Regions from separate parts of the Homo sapiens genome. Here region 1 is linked to region 2. A link means that fine-mapping ties the variant in region 2 to the expression of a gene that starts in the linked region. Tissue or cell type: whole blood. Region 2 holds a variant in brackets; the other region holds the start of a gene. All regions are shown on one strand. Distances are from middle to middle.

Region 1 (8,000 bases), 65 kb after region 2:
TGCTCACTGCAACCTCCGCCTCCCAGGTTCAAGGGACTCTCCTGCCTCAGCCTCCTGAGTAGCTGGGATTACAGGCGCGTGCCACCATGCCCGGCTAATTTCTGTATTTTTAGTAGAGACAGGGTTTTACCACGTTGGCCAGGCTGGTCTTGAACTCCTGACCTCATGTGATCCACCTGCCTCGGCCTCCCAAAGTGCTGGGGTTTATAGGCGTGAGCCACTGCGCCCAGCCATGAAAATTATTTAATTCAGAAACATAATGGTATGATAGCATCATCTTTTCTTTTAACCAAATTATTTTCATGTTAACACCTAACCAAGGACAAGCATTTGAGGGTCTAAAAGGTAGAAAAGTAATGCAGACAATTCTGAAAAAGGACATATGACTTGAGAAGGGAATGGAAGAGGGAGCTGCCTCTGGTTGCATGGTAATGATGGTAGCGAGTGTTATTCAGGAAGTGGAAACACAAAGAGTGACAAAAAAATCACCTTCATTGGCCCAACAATCTAAAAATTAAGAATTAATTACACCTCTCTCTTCCACTATTAAGGCCATCAGCCACCCCCATCACCACCGCCCTGGGGTGGGAGGGTGACCTGAAGCTGCACCAGCACTATCAGCACAATAGAGCATTCAGTCACTGATGACTTTCGACCCAAGCCTGCGTGCACAGTCTCTTTGCGAGTGGCTATTTTGGCAACTTCATTCCAAGCCTAACCAATCAACTTCTGAATAAACACCGGCAACACCAATTGTCTTTCAACGGATGATGGCTATAGGATAGGGTGTACTTATATTGAGGGAAGAATAAGCAAGGAACACGACCATTTCCCAGCTCCTTTCTGTTTGAGGGGTGGAGTGTTGAGGATTACGGACGTGACATAGATTTTTAAAAGGTCAGATTAGTGGTTCTGTGAGGATCTGTCCCATTTAAGCCCTACCTAACCTTTAAGTAAAACAACTTTACATACTGCGCTCCCTAAGAAAAAACTTTGGAAAGGCTTCTTTTGAACTACATTAATTACAAAATCAACAGCTGCCCAGGGTGAGACGCTGATCATTGCAACTGTTCCTTCTATCCCCTGAACATACAATTGTCTAATGTAGAGACATAGACATCAAGGTAAAGCTTTTAAAAAATCATTATTCCATGTCCCTGCTCCCTGATAGCACATAAGCAACTACTTTTATCAATGTGGCATAGCAACTACTGATTACTAATCAAAAAGCAGTCTATGTTCCTTAAACACAGGCTTCCCATGGTTCTCCAGTTCACGCACAATAATATTTCTCTACAAGTTACATATATTCTTCTCTGTTGACCTATGGAAAACTAATCTACAAAATAGGAATATATTAACACAGTTTCTTATGTACATGAATATATATAGATATGATACATATGCAACAAAAAACCCAAGTAAATATAACTATCATCCTCAATTTAACAGAATTGTTAAAAACTTGGAATTTTCTACAATCAAGCTATAACATTTATTGACCTTCCTATGGGTTAAAGAAAAAGATGCTTATTTAGAGGCTTAATTATAGACCTACACAAAAATAAATACCCTTATAATTTATCTCTCATTCTAGTTTTCAACTTTTTAATCTAAGTTCATAATTACCGTTTCTCTAAGTGCACAATTGTTGTAAATATAGCCTTTACTCTCAACAGCTTTTGCCAGCTAATAAGAGATTCAGATAGGATTAAAGAAGATTAGCAAAGAGGGCAAATGAAGGGTAAAACAAGCGTCTGCCAAAAACTGAAGAGATAAGGCTTGGATGTCTTCAACGTGGCTTTCTAGAACATATTATGTCACTCCGAGGCTGGCTTAACGCTTCTAATACACAACAAAAGAGTAATTAACGTTTTAAAAGTCACCAAACTCTTTAAAAAGCAACGCAGGAAAAAAAGATCCCAAACTAACCAAGTCGAAGTTTTACAGAAATTAAATGAGCTATTACAATGGGAAAACAAAGACTGTATCTTAAAATATAAAAGCACAGTTCTCTGTGCTCATATTCACAAATTATTTCAAAGCTTATACACAAAAAAAGTCCACCCCGACGAAGAGATTAAACGTCCTGCCCGGTGCCTGCAGTGGAAGCAGGCGGTGGCGCGGTTGGGGGAACTTTCTCCCTCCCGGTCAAGCCTCGGGAATTGAAGGGCCGGGGAGGCGGGGCCCGATCGAAAAGCTGGAAAGTCACTTTTGTTTTCACCATTATTTCACTTAATGGGTTGTGTTTCTGAATAAATAAAGTCAGATAACTTTGGCTTCCCTCTTTGAGAATTCCGTTATCATTAGAACAAATGTCTGTTTCTTTTAAACGATTATCTAACCACATTTGCATACAGCTCTTTCCTTGTAGGATTGAGATTACTAACCACTAAAAACCAGTTTTATTGCTCTCGACACCGCACTCTCGACCTGTCCCTAAATTAAAACGGATTACTTGCAGAAAAGGGACAGTTTTCGTCACACACTTTCTGATCCGACTCTGCAAACCAGGGCTCTTAAAAGGCTCCAGGGACCGCGTGGTGGAAGGAGGGGGCGTCCCCGGGCGCCGGGAGTCCGGCGCCGTTGGGGGGGACGGGGGTGTGCGGAATTCCACTTTCACCTGAGCGTCCTTTGGGATGCACCAGCGAGGGCTGGAGTCGGACCTAATTCCTGTTTTTCTCCCTCCTTTTAGATTTTGCAACAGTTCTGAACTCAGTTCCGCTGCCTCCCTGAGACCCAATCCTGCCTCTCTGTCCTAAAAACAGTTTCCACCGCCAGCCCAAGCAGCAGGGGAGCAGAGGTGGGAGATCCCGGAGGAGAGTTTAGGGGCGGGGGTCTCAGGCTAAGGGACGCCCGGCCGTCATCCTCCCACGCCAGGCCGGCCCCCGCGGTCCAGGAGGCGGGAAAGTGGTCAAGAGGTCTGGGAGACACCGACCGCCTTCCCTCGGGCTGACCACTCCCGCCCGCTCCGCCCCTCCGGGGACCCTCCTCCCTCCAGTCCTTCCCCTACCGGCGTCAGGGACCGGTCTCCGGGCGGAGATTGGCCCTGGTAGCACAGGGCGCCGAGGGGACATGCCCGGCCAGCCTCGCAGGTCGGGCTCCGGCTGGGTCGGACAGAGGGTGGTGGCCCTGCAGCCCGCTGGGGATTACCTGTCCGCGCCTGCTGCTTACCTCGTTCGCTCCCTTGTGAAGCTCCGGCGTCTTGTGTGTTTCATCTCCTAGGAAACGGCGGGGGCAGCAGGCGGGCCTACGGCCGGCCCAGAGAGGGCGTGGCCTCGCGGGAAATCCCCGCCAATTCCCGCAGGCCCCGCCTTCCCCGGGGCGGGGCTTCATGGAGCCGGGGGACTGTCGGCTGAGCTGCAGCAAGTGTGCCATTTAGACTTGGGGTTTAGGGGAGTTGATTACCTTTTCAGTCAGGTCTTTGTCAGAAGTTGGTTTGTTTGCCCTTTATTTTGTTTTGGTTTTGTTCCGATTCATTCTACAAAGTCTTGATTAATTAAAATATGGTTCCCAGACCGGGCAGAGCAAGAGAAGGAAGTCTGTTTGCCTCATACTTGCACTTGTTTACTTGTGCCTGGGGAAAAACTGTTCTTGTATGCAGTTCCTTAAATTGGTCAATTCCTTGGGTATGTATTACCTCTTGAGCTGCCCTTCTAAGTTTGTTTCCATTTATTCATTCAGAGAACCTGCCTAGTATCAGCCACAGAGTTAGATAGTGGTAATTCCAAGAAAAATGACTGAATGTGTGAATAAATGGGTAAATTGTAACTAGTCTAGAATTTAGAGAGGAAGGCACACTTGTGTTACTGCAAATAGTTCAGATTGGCTGGCAAAAAGGGTCTACGAAACAGAAACATAAGTGATGAAGCAGTGGTGCGGCAAGTTAGTAATTATTAGGTGTCAGGATGTGGGCTTGGGACCAAGAATAGCGCCAAGGTAGACACGACAGACATGCCTGTGGCCCTCACAGCTTAAAGTGAAGTAGGCTTTCACGCGTATGTTTATGGCAGCACAATTCACAATTGCAAAGATGTGGAACCAATCTAAGTGCCCATTGACTAATGAGTGGATAAAGAAAATGTGGTATATATACACCATAGGCTGCTACTCAGTCACAAAAAAAGAATGAAATAATGTCTTTTGCAACAACTTGGAAGAGTGGGAGGTCCTTATTCTACGCAAAGTAATACAGGCGTGGAAAACCAAAAACTGTATGTTCTCACTTATAAGCAAAAGCCAAGCTATGAGTATGCAAAGGCATACACAGTGAAATAATGGACTTTGGAGACTCAGAAAGGGGAGGATGGGAGAGAGCCTAGGGATAAAAAAAACTATGCACTAGGTACCATATACACTACTCAGATGATGGGTGCACTAAAATCTCAGAATTCACCACTATATAATTCATCTATGTAACAAAAAACCACTTGTACCCCAAGAGCTATTGAAATAAACATTTAAAAACAGACGGGGCTCAGTGGCTCATGCCTGTAATCCCAGCACTTTGGGAGGCCCAGGTGAGTGGCTCACCTGAGGTCAGGAGTTCAAGACCAGCCTGGCCAACATGGTGAAACCCCATCTCTACTAAAAATACAAAAAATATCTGGGTGTGGTGGCACATGCCTGTAATCCCAGCTACTCGGGAGGCTGAGGCAGGAGAATCACTTGAACCCAGGAGGCAGAGGTTGCAGTGAGCGGAGAACGTGCCACTGCACTCCAGCCTGGGTGACTGAGCAAGACTCTGTCTCAAAATAATAATAATAATAAATGGCCAGGCGCGGTGGCTCATGCCTGTAATCCCAGCACTTTGGGAGGCCGAGGTGGGCGGATCACCTGAGGTCGGGAGTTTGAGACCAGTCTGACCAACCTGGAGAAACCCCATCTCTACTAAAATGCTAAAACTACAAAAAATTAGCCAGGCGTGGTGGCGCATGCCTGTAATCCCAGCTACTTGGGAGGCTGAGGTAGGAGAATAGCTTGAACCCAGGAGGCGGAGGTTGCAGTGAGCTGAGATCACACCATTGCACTCCAGCCTGGGCAGCAAAAGCAAAACTCCGTCTCAATAATAATAATAATAAATAAAAGATTCATTGCTCTCCAATAAATAAGTGAAGTAGGCAGGCAAAGTAAAAAGCATAAGTTAGATAGGTCATAGCAGCTTTATATACCCAGTTATGAAGCCTAAGCTTTAACATGTGTCAATGAGGAAGACCAGTGAAGAATCTCCCACAGAAGAGTGACATGTTCACATTTGCATTTCAGAAAGATCCCAAGAGGAGCAGTGGGTAGGGTGGATTTGAGCTGCAAGTCTGGAGGCAAGAGAAAGATTGGGAGTCTTTCTCCCAACTGACTGGGAAGAAATGATAAGGATCCAACTCTAGCAGTGATGATGGAAATAGGACAGAGAAAGACAGAATTCAAGGGATGTTTAGGAGTTAAAATCGGCAGGACCATCAGGCTTAGATGACTGGTGGATAGTGGTATCCATGACCAAGTTGGAAAATAATAGAGGAGGAGCTGATTTAGGGATGGAGGATGTGAGAGATAACAAGCCCAGTTTTGAAATTTTTGAATTGAGAAAAATCCTTATGCAGATTACAAGAAGGGAGTTTGTAATATAGATTTGCAACTTAGGGTTCTTTTAGAGCTAGAAATACAGATATGTTGGGATACTGTGGATGAAATCATGGATATAGATGAAATAAACAGTAAGAAGAAAGAAGGGATGGGATTCTGGAAAACTCCATCCTCTAAAGAGTGGAGAAAGAAAGAGTAGGGGTGAGGAAGAGACAGACTGAAAAAAGAAAAGTCAGGGAAGTAGTAGGAGATCCCTCAGAAAAATGATATTTCAGAATGAGGAAAGGTAGGTTTCCCAAAAGAAAGAGAAAGAGAAAGGAAGGAAGGAAAGAGAGAGAAAACAAAAAGAGGACAAACAGCATTTATTCCTTCTGAAGAACTCTTCTGTTTTAAAACAAGTAGAGCATGCACAAAACATATTTTTTGTCACGTTTCACAATAGAAGAATAAAAATTCTCCAAGCACTCCTAACCCCTTCTAAAAAGTACCTAATATCTGAGCAGAGCAGTGAACGTACCTGAAAGGCAAAGGTGGCCCAAAGGCAAATCCCATTTCAGCATTTCAACCAGCTGACGAAGCCTTGGACCCGTGGCAATAGGGCTGAGCTGGACCAGGGACTAGAAAATCAACCAGGGGAGCTTAGAAGGGGTCAAAGTGGTCCCAGGTCAGGAGCATCATCTGGATCCCAAAGGAAACAAACACAATCATCTCTGAAGAAGGCATCCTCAACTTAGGCCTCTAGGTTTTTCAAAAAATATGAGCTCATGACCACAGAGGAATGAACACCGTCAAATGAGAATCTAGAAAAAGCAACAATTATTCAGACTTTCCAGGATTTCTGAAATTGGAAAAATCAGCTTGAATACAAAATAGCTATGTATGAAATATATACAGAAATAGAAGAAGGAATAGCAAAAATGAACAGAAATCAATCAGGAATATTAGAAAAAGAATTAAATAAACTGTTAGAAAGAAACGTAACTATTGAAACTTTAAAAATGAGTTACATGTTATATTAGAACAAAAGAAAGAATTAGGGAATTGGCACAAAATCTGCAGAAAGTACCTAGAATATAGCATATAAAAGATAAGAAGATGAGAAATACTAATGAGAAATTAAGAGATACGATGGATAAAATAAAGTCTAACATGGGTCTAAATAAATTCTAAGAAGTAGATTTGTTGTTGATAATGCATTGCTACAGTAGTTCTTTTTTTTGTTTGAGATGGGGTTTCACTCTGTCGCCCAGGCTGGAGTGCAGTGGTGTGATCTCGGCTCTCTGCAACCTCCACCTCCCGAGTTCAAGCAATTCTCCTGCCTCAGCCTCCCGAGTAGCTGGGACTACAGGCACACACCACCGTGCCCATCTAATTTTTGTATTTTTAGTAGAGATGGGGTTTCACCATATTGGTCAGGTTGATCTTGAACTCCTGACCTCAGCTGATCCACCCACCTCGGCCTCCCAAAGTGCTGGGATTACAGGCATGAGCCACCATGCCTGGCCAGCTGCAGTTCTAGTAAAATTTATCTATATGGTAGAATCAAGCAAATATTGATACTGTTGAAAATCAGAGTTCTTATTTGGGAGAAGAGAGATAAAGATGTAGAATGGAGAAAGAAGAGGAAGAATCTGTGGTGTCAGTTTTGACTTGGAGGTAGCAAGATTAACACATGACTTACTAAAAAGTGCTTCCTAGCTCTGTTCACTGAAAGGATCTAGAAACAATGACACTACAGTAACAGTGAACAGATTAACACCCAAGTCCCGGTTTTGTAATACTATTATTTACTTAAAGGAAACAGAACTCCTTGGAGAAGTGGCTGATTCCATGACTGGGGCAAGGAAAGTCCAAGGTAGTCTTAAAATGTATCATGCACACCCAGCAAAGGTTAAAGATCCTATTTCACCAAGCCACTGAGCACTACAAGGACTTTATAATTCTTTAATTCAGATTACCCATTCAATTTATGTGCTAATGTCATCTAATATTTTAGTTTATATTTATAACCCTATAGATTGGTCTGTTATTTTACATTCAGAGTATTTGTACATTGATACATGTGATGATGTCTTTGCTCATCTTATCTTTCTGTACCTCAGACCTTCCTCCTGGGATTACCTTCCTTCATCCTAAAGTATAGCCTTTAGAAGTTCCTTTACAGTAGGTCTGTTCGTGGTAAAATGTTGCACTTGCTTTTTGTTTTTGTTTTAATTTATTTTTTTTGACGGGGTCTTGCTGTGTCACCCAGGCTGGAGTGCAATGGTACGATCTCGGGTCACTGCAAGCTCGGTCTCCTGGGTTCACGCCATTCTCCTGCCTCAGCCTCCCGAGTAGCTGGGACTACAGGTGCCCGCCACCACGCCCAGCTAAATTTTTGTATTTTTAGTAGAGACGGGGTTTCACTTTGTTAGCCAGGA
Region 2 (8,264 bases):
TTGTTACAGATATTCTTATTCCATCCATACAACAGCCCGCTTAGATCATATTAGTATCCATATCGTGTGGCTCTCCAATGTTGAGTAACTTGCCTAACTTCTCACAGTTAGTAAGAGACTGAGCTGGGGTCTGAACTCAAGGCCCAGGGGTGTTCAGTTCACCCTGAACACGCCAGGCTTTCTCACGACCCCACTTCTTCACATGGGGGTGTATTTCCCACTGCGAAGCCCCTATCTCTGAAGTGCTCTCTGTGTCTGTCTTCATTCTGTAAAATGGTTGTAAGTGGACCTATTCTCGTAGGGTTGTTGTAGGGATTGATGAGACTCTTCAGAGCACGTGGCATAGAATCTGTACGCATTAAACGTCAGCTAGCATAATTGCCATCATTATCAACACCATCATCATCATCACTATTGGTGAATGCTCAATCTGGCGTTAGCATAGGGATGCATTGATGAGGAAAAATCTAAAGTCTGGAGACCAGTGAGGAAGTCACTGCTAAGAGCTGAAATGAGGGAGGATGAGGGTCTGAACCACAGCAGTGGCAGAGGGTGAAGAAGAAGGGAACTAAGCAGGTTCACGGGGTGGAGGTGGTAGGGAAAGAGGGAAATATAAACTCCTAAGTTTGCAGCTCAGGTGACTGGGGGGTGCGTTGTCCATGAATAGCAACATAGGAGGAGAATCAGGATTGGGGGAAAGACATGGTACCCAGAGGACATTCATGTTGTGGCAGGCAGAGGGCAAGTGGGCAGGCGTGGAGATTGGTGATGATCAGGGTGTGGTGGTTACAGAGTTGTGGGCTGAAGGAGCCAGCTCAGAGGCACTGCGAATGTGCAGAGACCTGGAGTAGACCCCCAAGGAACACCAGCATTAAGGGACAGGAGAGAAAAGGACCTCATGGAGGAAGAGAACAGGTAGAGAGGTGGATGGTAGGAGGAACAGGGTATGGAAATCCAAGAGAATACACACTGAGTGTGGAAAAAAGGAATGGGAGATGAGGCAGAGAGCTCGGATAGGACCAGCACCGCCCCTGGGATCTGGCCACTAGGATGTCAAGATCTAGCAGGAGCTGCTGCACTGGCAGGAAGCAGACTGAAGACAAACGACAACCAGAAGCAATAGGAGGAGCTAGCTCTGCAGGAAGGGAGACAGGTTTATCTCTAGAAGGCGAAATGGGGCTCTGATCACCCTCGTGGTTTCAAAGCACTGTTCAGTAAACAGTGTTTTCTCTATAGCGTTATCTGTTTACACGTCTCGACACTGGGCTCTGTGTCCGTTGTCTCTCACGGCATATCAGGCTTCAACAGGTGTCTGCTCTTGAAGCAACAAATGTCAAAGCGCAATATTATGTTATCAGCCCCTAAAGGGTTACATACAGTGAGCACATGCTCTCAGTCTATACATGTTTAACCCTACTGAATTTTGTGTAAGTTCAGCTGCCTACTTTAACCTTTTTCCCATCTCAGAAACTCATTCTGAAACACTAATCAGTTCTTTACTTCAGAAAAATTTTCGGAAGGAAATTCAAAGCAGTGATTGCATTCACTAGCAGCTTCAGTCATGTCTCTTGCTCTCATCCTCATCAGCAGAGCAAACACTTATTAAATGCTTAGCATGTGTTAAAATTCCAGGTAGGGTTATGTAAGAATACCTAAGGAAATTTCGTCCGTTTTATGGACGGGAAAGCTGGCTTAAACAACTTGTCCCAAACCACAAAAGCTGGTGAGTGACAAAATGGGATATATCAGACTCTAGGATTCATGCATTATGATGCTTCTTATTGGAGAAAGAAGTTGTTAGGGAAAAAACATGAACAGAAAATTAAGTCTTCTTAAATTATTTTGGCTTATTATTTGAAGTACCTTGTATGCTGTGAATTTTCAGATTGCAGCCAGTTGTTAGCACTGTTGAAACCAGTAACACTGAACCCCTAGGAAATCCACCATCTCTATTAACCCAGTTAACCTTTTTTTTTTTTTAATTTTTATTTATTTATTTGAGATGGAGTCTTGCTCTGTTGCCAGGCTGGAGTGCAGTGGCGCAATCTTGGTTCACTGCAACCTCCGCCTCCCGGGTTCAAGCGATTCTCCTGCCTCAGCCTCCTGAGTAGCTGGGATTACAGGTGCATGCCACCACACACAGCTAATTTTTGTATTTTTAGTAGAGACACGGGTTTCATCATGTTGGCCAGGATGGTCTCTATCTCTTGATCTCATGATCTGCCCGGCTCGGCCTCCTGAAGTGCTGGGATTTCAGGTGTGAGCCACCGCGCCCAGCCTAACCTTTTTAAAAAAGTGGTTGTTCATGCTTAAGAAATGAGTTTCAGAACTTTGAAAAAAAAATTCCAGGAATATAGATCGCAAAATTAGAAAATACTCTTTTGATTCTTTTCATTAGAATTATTTGCTTGATTTCCTCTATAAATTTCCGTAATTAATTTAAGAAGACCAGCACAGAGCTTTTTGAGAGCATATTCATCTTAAAATCTCAGTTACTGAAGGAAGATATTCTTGATGAGACAGAATGCTTTTCTTTATCTTAGTCCTGATCTGACTTCTCAAAGCGGATCATCTCGGCCTTTTATGTCAGGATTAGGGGCAAATGTTGAGAAGAAAATCAGACAAGAGATTCAAAGAACAAACTGCATTCATCTGACGCCCAGAAATTACCTTGTGGGTCCTCTAATTTTTCAGGAAAAGTTTCATTGCATGATAGTTTTTCGATTGGTTTAATTATGCTTTCTTCTAAAGAGAAGACAGATGGAAAGAAAGAATAATAGTAAGGAGAATGTTATAGGAAAAGCAGAGAAAAAATGGATTAGATGATTAATGAAAAGATCCAGAAAGAGCCCTTAAAAATGCAAAAATGTCCCCATTGTTGTCACAGCATTTATTTGATGCCAACTGTATATTCCCTTGAGACTCAAAGTTGTTCTACTGTCATTTAATTGAATTTGTGTAACTGGTTGGTTCAGTGAATATTAATTTTAATTATCTGAAGAAAAAATAAGTAAATTACAGTGCTGCAGTGTATGACACCGCAGCGACATTAAATGGATAAACTGAGTTTTTAAAGAATCTGGAAAACTTGTAAAAAGCCCAAATATATTGATGTCACATCAGAATATCTCACTAAACTACTCACTTATAATGGTAATTGTCAAAGTTTTTTGATCCAATATCACCTACATTAAAAAACAAACTGTACCTCTTCACACACTTTTAAGTTGATATTTAAAATTTTTAATCATAAGTTTAACAGTTGCAAAGGATGTTATTTCTGACATATTGTAACTATAGGCATTTAAAAAATAAAACTATTAGTGATTTTTTTTTTTTTTTTTTTGAGACAGAATCTCGCTCTGTCGCCCAGGCTGGAGTGCAGTGGTGTGATCTCGGCTCACTGCAACCTCCACTTCCTGGGTTCAAGCGATTCTCCTGTCTCAGTCTCCTGAGCAGCTGGATTTATAGGCGCATGCCACCATGCCTGGATTTTTTTTTGTGTGTGTGTATTTTTAGTAGAGACAGGGTTTCACCATGTTGGTCAGGCGGGTCTCGAACTCCGGACCTTGTGATTCGCCCACCTCGGCCTCCCAAAGTGCTGGGATTACAGGAGTGGGCCACTGCACCTGGCCAAAACTATTAGTGATTTTATGTCCTCCAATATTGACATAAAAATACATGAACAAGTTCCTTTTTGATGCTTGGACATTTCACATTAATTCTTTTTTCCCTTAAAATTATATCTTTATTTATACCTCAGCTTCCAAATTTTATCCAAATGTAATCTTAGGCTTAAAAGTCTAAAATTGGTCACTCTAAAATATGTGTAAATTAAAACTTTTTTTAATTTCTTGTAACCATAAGGATATTAACATACTGTACAAAGTTATAATTACAATGATTCATTGTATATAATTAATCAAAAAAGTTGAGTATTATATATTTTGATTACTAAACACGAAAATTAAGTTTTTTGCAAACACATCTCTTAATGAGAAAGGTGGGGTTATTTTCAAGTAGTTCATGTATCAACAAATGAATATTTATTGCTGGAATCACAGCATCAGGGCTATTTTCTCTCTCTTTTCTTTTTTCTTCCTTTTTGGAGACAGAAGCATTAAGAAATCTTGCTAATACAAATAGATAGTTGGGAACAAAAGCGGTTTTGTGATAGCTTTGCCACTCTATTCTTCAAACGCTCTTCAAAATTACAGACCAAAATTCATATACTGATCTCATAAAAAAAAATTAAAAAAACTTTTTAAATTACCTGTCAGCTAACAATTCAAGTAGGTCCTCCTTCAATTTTCTAAATGCTGAGAACTGTTAAGACTCC[T/C]TGACTTTAAAAAGGACCTGTTCCTCAGTCATCAAATCAAAGTTACTTACTTTCTCAACAGTGACATCAACATACCAGAATTTCCATTTCATTGGCACCCCAGATATTTTTACATTTTGGGGAAAAAGAAAACACACCATGGTAGCCAGTGAGAAGTCTTCTTTTCAGAATAGAAACTCCTTGCTAGGGCAGACCCATTTCAGGAAAGATTCAGATGGAGGTCGAGAATTCCCTTAAAACTAGCTGTACTCAAGAATTAGTGGGAAAACCTTTTTTTTATTATTGTACTTTTTAATATAGAGGCACAGTTCCACCATGTTGGCCAGGTTGATCTCGAACTCCTAGGCTCAAGGGACCTGCCCACCTCCGCCTCCCAAAGTGCTGGGATTACAGGTGTGAACCACCATGCTCATCCAGCTACAAACAGTTTTATTGAAGAGGCAGTGTTACAACTCCATGACTGCTCCAGCAGAGCAGGGCTACCCATAGGCAGAGTGTAGTGGAAAACCTTTGTGTATCTCCCAAGTGCACATGTATCTTGGTTGGAAGAGCACTGCAATATATTTAAAAGTAGACCTCTATAAAGGAAAACCCCGTACATGTACATTTTGTATTCTTGCGTTACCTGCATTGCTCCTTTTGAAAGCAAGTTCTGCCCCAACGGGTCCCAGTGACTTGGGGAATAACTGGTTGCTCCAAGTGTGGGGGTTTATTTCCTTTCCACTGGCTATCAAGGACACCTTCTTGGGATTCACACCTGAGAAGAACAAAACAACCACTTCAAAGGTTAGAGCAGATCATAAACTTAAAGGAAACTTATGTAATACATTCAAACAAAGACTAGAGACACCTTGGACAGGAGAATGGAAATAAATCTAGGTGAAAATGTAGCAGATACTTGCTTTCTGATGAACCCTAACATGATACCAAGCCCTTAGCACAACCACCTGGAATGTTGACAGTGTACTTTATAGGCAGAAGATATTTTCTACAATATAATAATAACACTTGATGTTCTTGCTAAGGGTCTTGTAAAAATTGAGATGGCACAAAAATTTTTCTTCAACAACACGACGTTTTTTTTGTTTTGTTTTGTTTTGTTTTGAGACAGGGTCTCTCTCTGTCGTCCAGGCTGGAGTGCCATGGTGTGATCTTGGCTCACTGCAGCCTCCACCTCCCAGGTTCAAGTGATTCTTGTGTCTCAGCCTCCCGAGTAGCTGGGATTACAGGCACCCACCACCATGCTTGGCTAATTTTTGTATTTTTAGTAGAGAGGGGATTTCACCATGTTGGCCAGGCTGTCTCAAACTCCTGGCCTCAAGTGATCCGTTCACCTTGGCCTCCCAAAGTGCTGAGATTACAGGTGTAAGCCACCACACCCGACCCAACATGACATTTTCATGTCACTTGTTTTGAGCGTATATTCTTGGCCCAACCCTTGGTGTAGCAGGGAAAACAGACACGTGACTAAGAACTCAGGAAAACCTTTGAAGTTCGGAGGTATGAAGCTCCACCTGAAACGCTTATTTGTATATGAGATACAGTAAAATGGAAACAGTTTATCCCCTGTGCGCCAGAAAGAAGTCATTGCAAATGTACTTGGAAAAAGAACAGTTTAAATTACTTATGATTTTCTGAAATCTGTGAAATGTCCATTCAGCCTTGGGCCGTGATACTAGTGGTCAAAGGGAGTTGTTTCAACCTGTTCTTAAGAGACTGAAAACTTCTTGAGCTTGTTTTCTTTTCACTGATAATTAAATTAGAGTGAACTTGAGCAGTCTATGCCTTTTGGTCATTCACGGAGAGTTTTCTTTATCTAGTGTAGAAATCATCACTGAGGACTCCACTGATTTAGGAAGTCAGAACTGTCTCCAGGCAGTTGAGCTTTTGCTTTCCGCGAGCTGGATTCCTTAGAAAGGTTTCATATGTATGAGATATATAATAATATCCCTTATTTTGAAACCAGAAATACTGCACCTCAAAAGTTACCCATTATCAGTTCTCTAAGGAAACACTTCATCAGGCAAGTAATTTCCCTTTCTTTATAGGATATAACTTCCCTAATAAAACACCTACAAATCGAACTATTATAGGCAACTACCAGCTGGGTGCGGTGGCTCATGCCTGTAATCCCAGCACTTTGGGAGGCCGAGGCGGGCGGATCACGAGGTCAGGAGTTTGAGACCAGCTTGGCCAACATAGTGAAACCCCATCTCTACTAAAAACACAAAAATTAGCCAGGCATGAGACAGGAGAATCGCTTGAACCTGGGAGGCAGAGGTTGTGGTGAGCCCGAGATCGCACCACTGCACTCTAGCCTGGGCAACAGAGTGAGACTCCATTTCAAAAGAAAAAAAAAAAAGGCAACTACCTAACCATAAAGATGCACTTGGTGGCAATTACTCATATTAAAACATCTTTAGGCCAGGCACAGTGGCTCATGCCTGTAATCCCAGCACTTTGGGAGGCTGAGGGAGGTGGATCACCTGAGGTCAGGAGTTCGAGACAAGCCTGGCCAACATGGTGAGACCCTGTCTCTACTAAAAGAATACAAAAAAAATTAGCTGGGTGTGGTGGTGCCTGCCTGTAATTCCAGCTACTTGGGAGGCTGAGGCACGAGAATCACTTGAACCCAAGTTGTGGAAGTTGCAATGAGCTGAGACTGTGCCACTGCATCCAGCCTGGTCTACAGAGCAAGACTGTCACAAAAAAAAAAAAAAATGTATTTACCCAAAAAGGAAGTGCAAGGTAGGGGTAAAACATTAAAAATCTGTGTGAACACAGTTGTCATAACAAAGAATGAGTTCTGAATATTTAAATGATGTTGTTAATCCAGTTGGCCTTGGCAATATTCCTAAATAGGCTTTTTTTTTAAGTATTTTAAAGTAAAAGGTAAGTAAATTATTGAAGATAACTAGTTTAATTCAAGGTTTGTTTTGTTTTCTTTTGTTTTGAGACAGACTTTTGCTATTGTTGCCCAGGCTGGAGTGCAATGGCGTGATCTCAGCTCACCAAAACCTCCACCTCCCAGGTTCAAGTGATTCTCTTGCCTCAGCCTCCTGAGTAGCTGGGATTACAGGCATGCGCCATCACGCCCGGCTAATTTTGTATTTTTAGTAGAGACAGGGTTTCTCCATGTTGGTCAGGCTAGTCTCGGACTCCCAACCTCAGGTGATCCGCCTGCCTCAGCCTCCCAAAGTGCTGGGATTACAGGTATGAGCCACCTCGCCTGGCCTCAAGGTCTATTTAAGATAAAGATTCCAATTTTGTTGGAAATAGATATATCCTAGAATTTTGTTATTTATTTGTTTATAAGTTTTCACTGGGTACCTCCTACAAACCAAACACTGTTAGGAAGAAGCATAAATTAATTTGATATTATAATGATAGATGTCATTACATGATGATAATCACTTGCCTCAAAGGACATAAAAAAGTCAGTTAGCAAATATTTACTGAGCACCTACCAGTGCCAGGCAGTGCGTGGCATTGGAGAAAAAGTGCTAAACAAAATAGACCAGTTTCTACTCTTTGGCTCTTAGAATCTAATGAGAAGGGAGACAGTTTTAGTCATAACTAAGTAAATACATAATGAGCAGGGTGCATCATGTTTAGAAGAATCTGGGGTGGAGGGGGCAAATAACAGAAGCAACTCAGCCAGTCTTTCTTTCAAATAAGCAATTTTAAGCTGAAATGTGAATCATGATTAACCCTCATTTATGCCTGAGGTTGCAATTTTTTGAAATTTTGCAATCAGACCTTGGCGATGACCTTCAGCAGTAGGATACAACTCCCACATGCTTAGCGTTCCAATAATGGAACACTAGGCATAAATGTGTTTTAAGGGGTGGGGAGGTGCGATCCTTGAAGAGGCAACAGTTTGGGCAGAGGACCTGAGATGGGAAAGAACTCAGAGATGGCCAGT

Evidence for each region. PIP is the estimated chance that this variant, and not a neighbour inherited with it, causes the effect.
Region 1: MAK starts here. The variant in region 2 is fine-mapped to the expression of MAK in whole blood (TOPMed, PIP above 0.99).

What each region holds. Positions count from the first base shown.
Region 1 is chr6:10,835,329-10,843,328 of GRCh38, forward strand. It overlaps MAK (male germ cell associated kinase), which reads right to left and starts at 3,211. Exons shown (of 15, transcript NM_001242957.3): 1 at 3,175-3,211. RefSeq lists a silencer at 3,274-3,403 and enhancers at 3,624-3,683, 3,734-3,893.
Region 2 is chr6:10,770,364-10,778,627 of GRCh38, forward strand. MAK (male germ cell associated kinase) reads right to left here. Exons shown (of 15, transcript NM_001242957.3): 12 at 4,965-5,096; 13 at 2,671-2,745. Among named protein-coding and RNA genes, the nearest start is that of TMEM14B, 27 kb to the left of the region's middle. The variant T/C (reference allele first, on the strand shown) is at 4,340.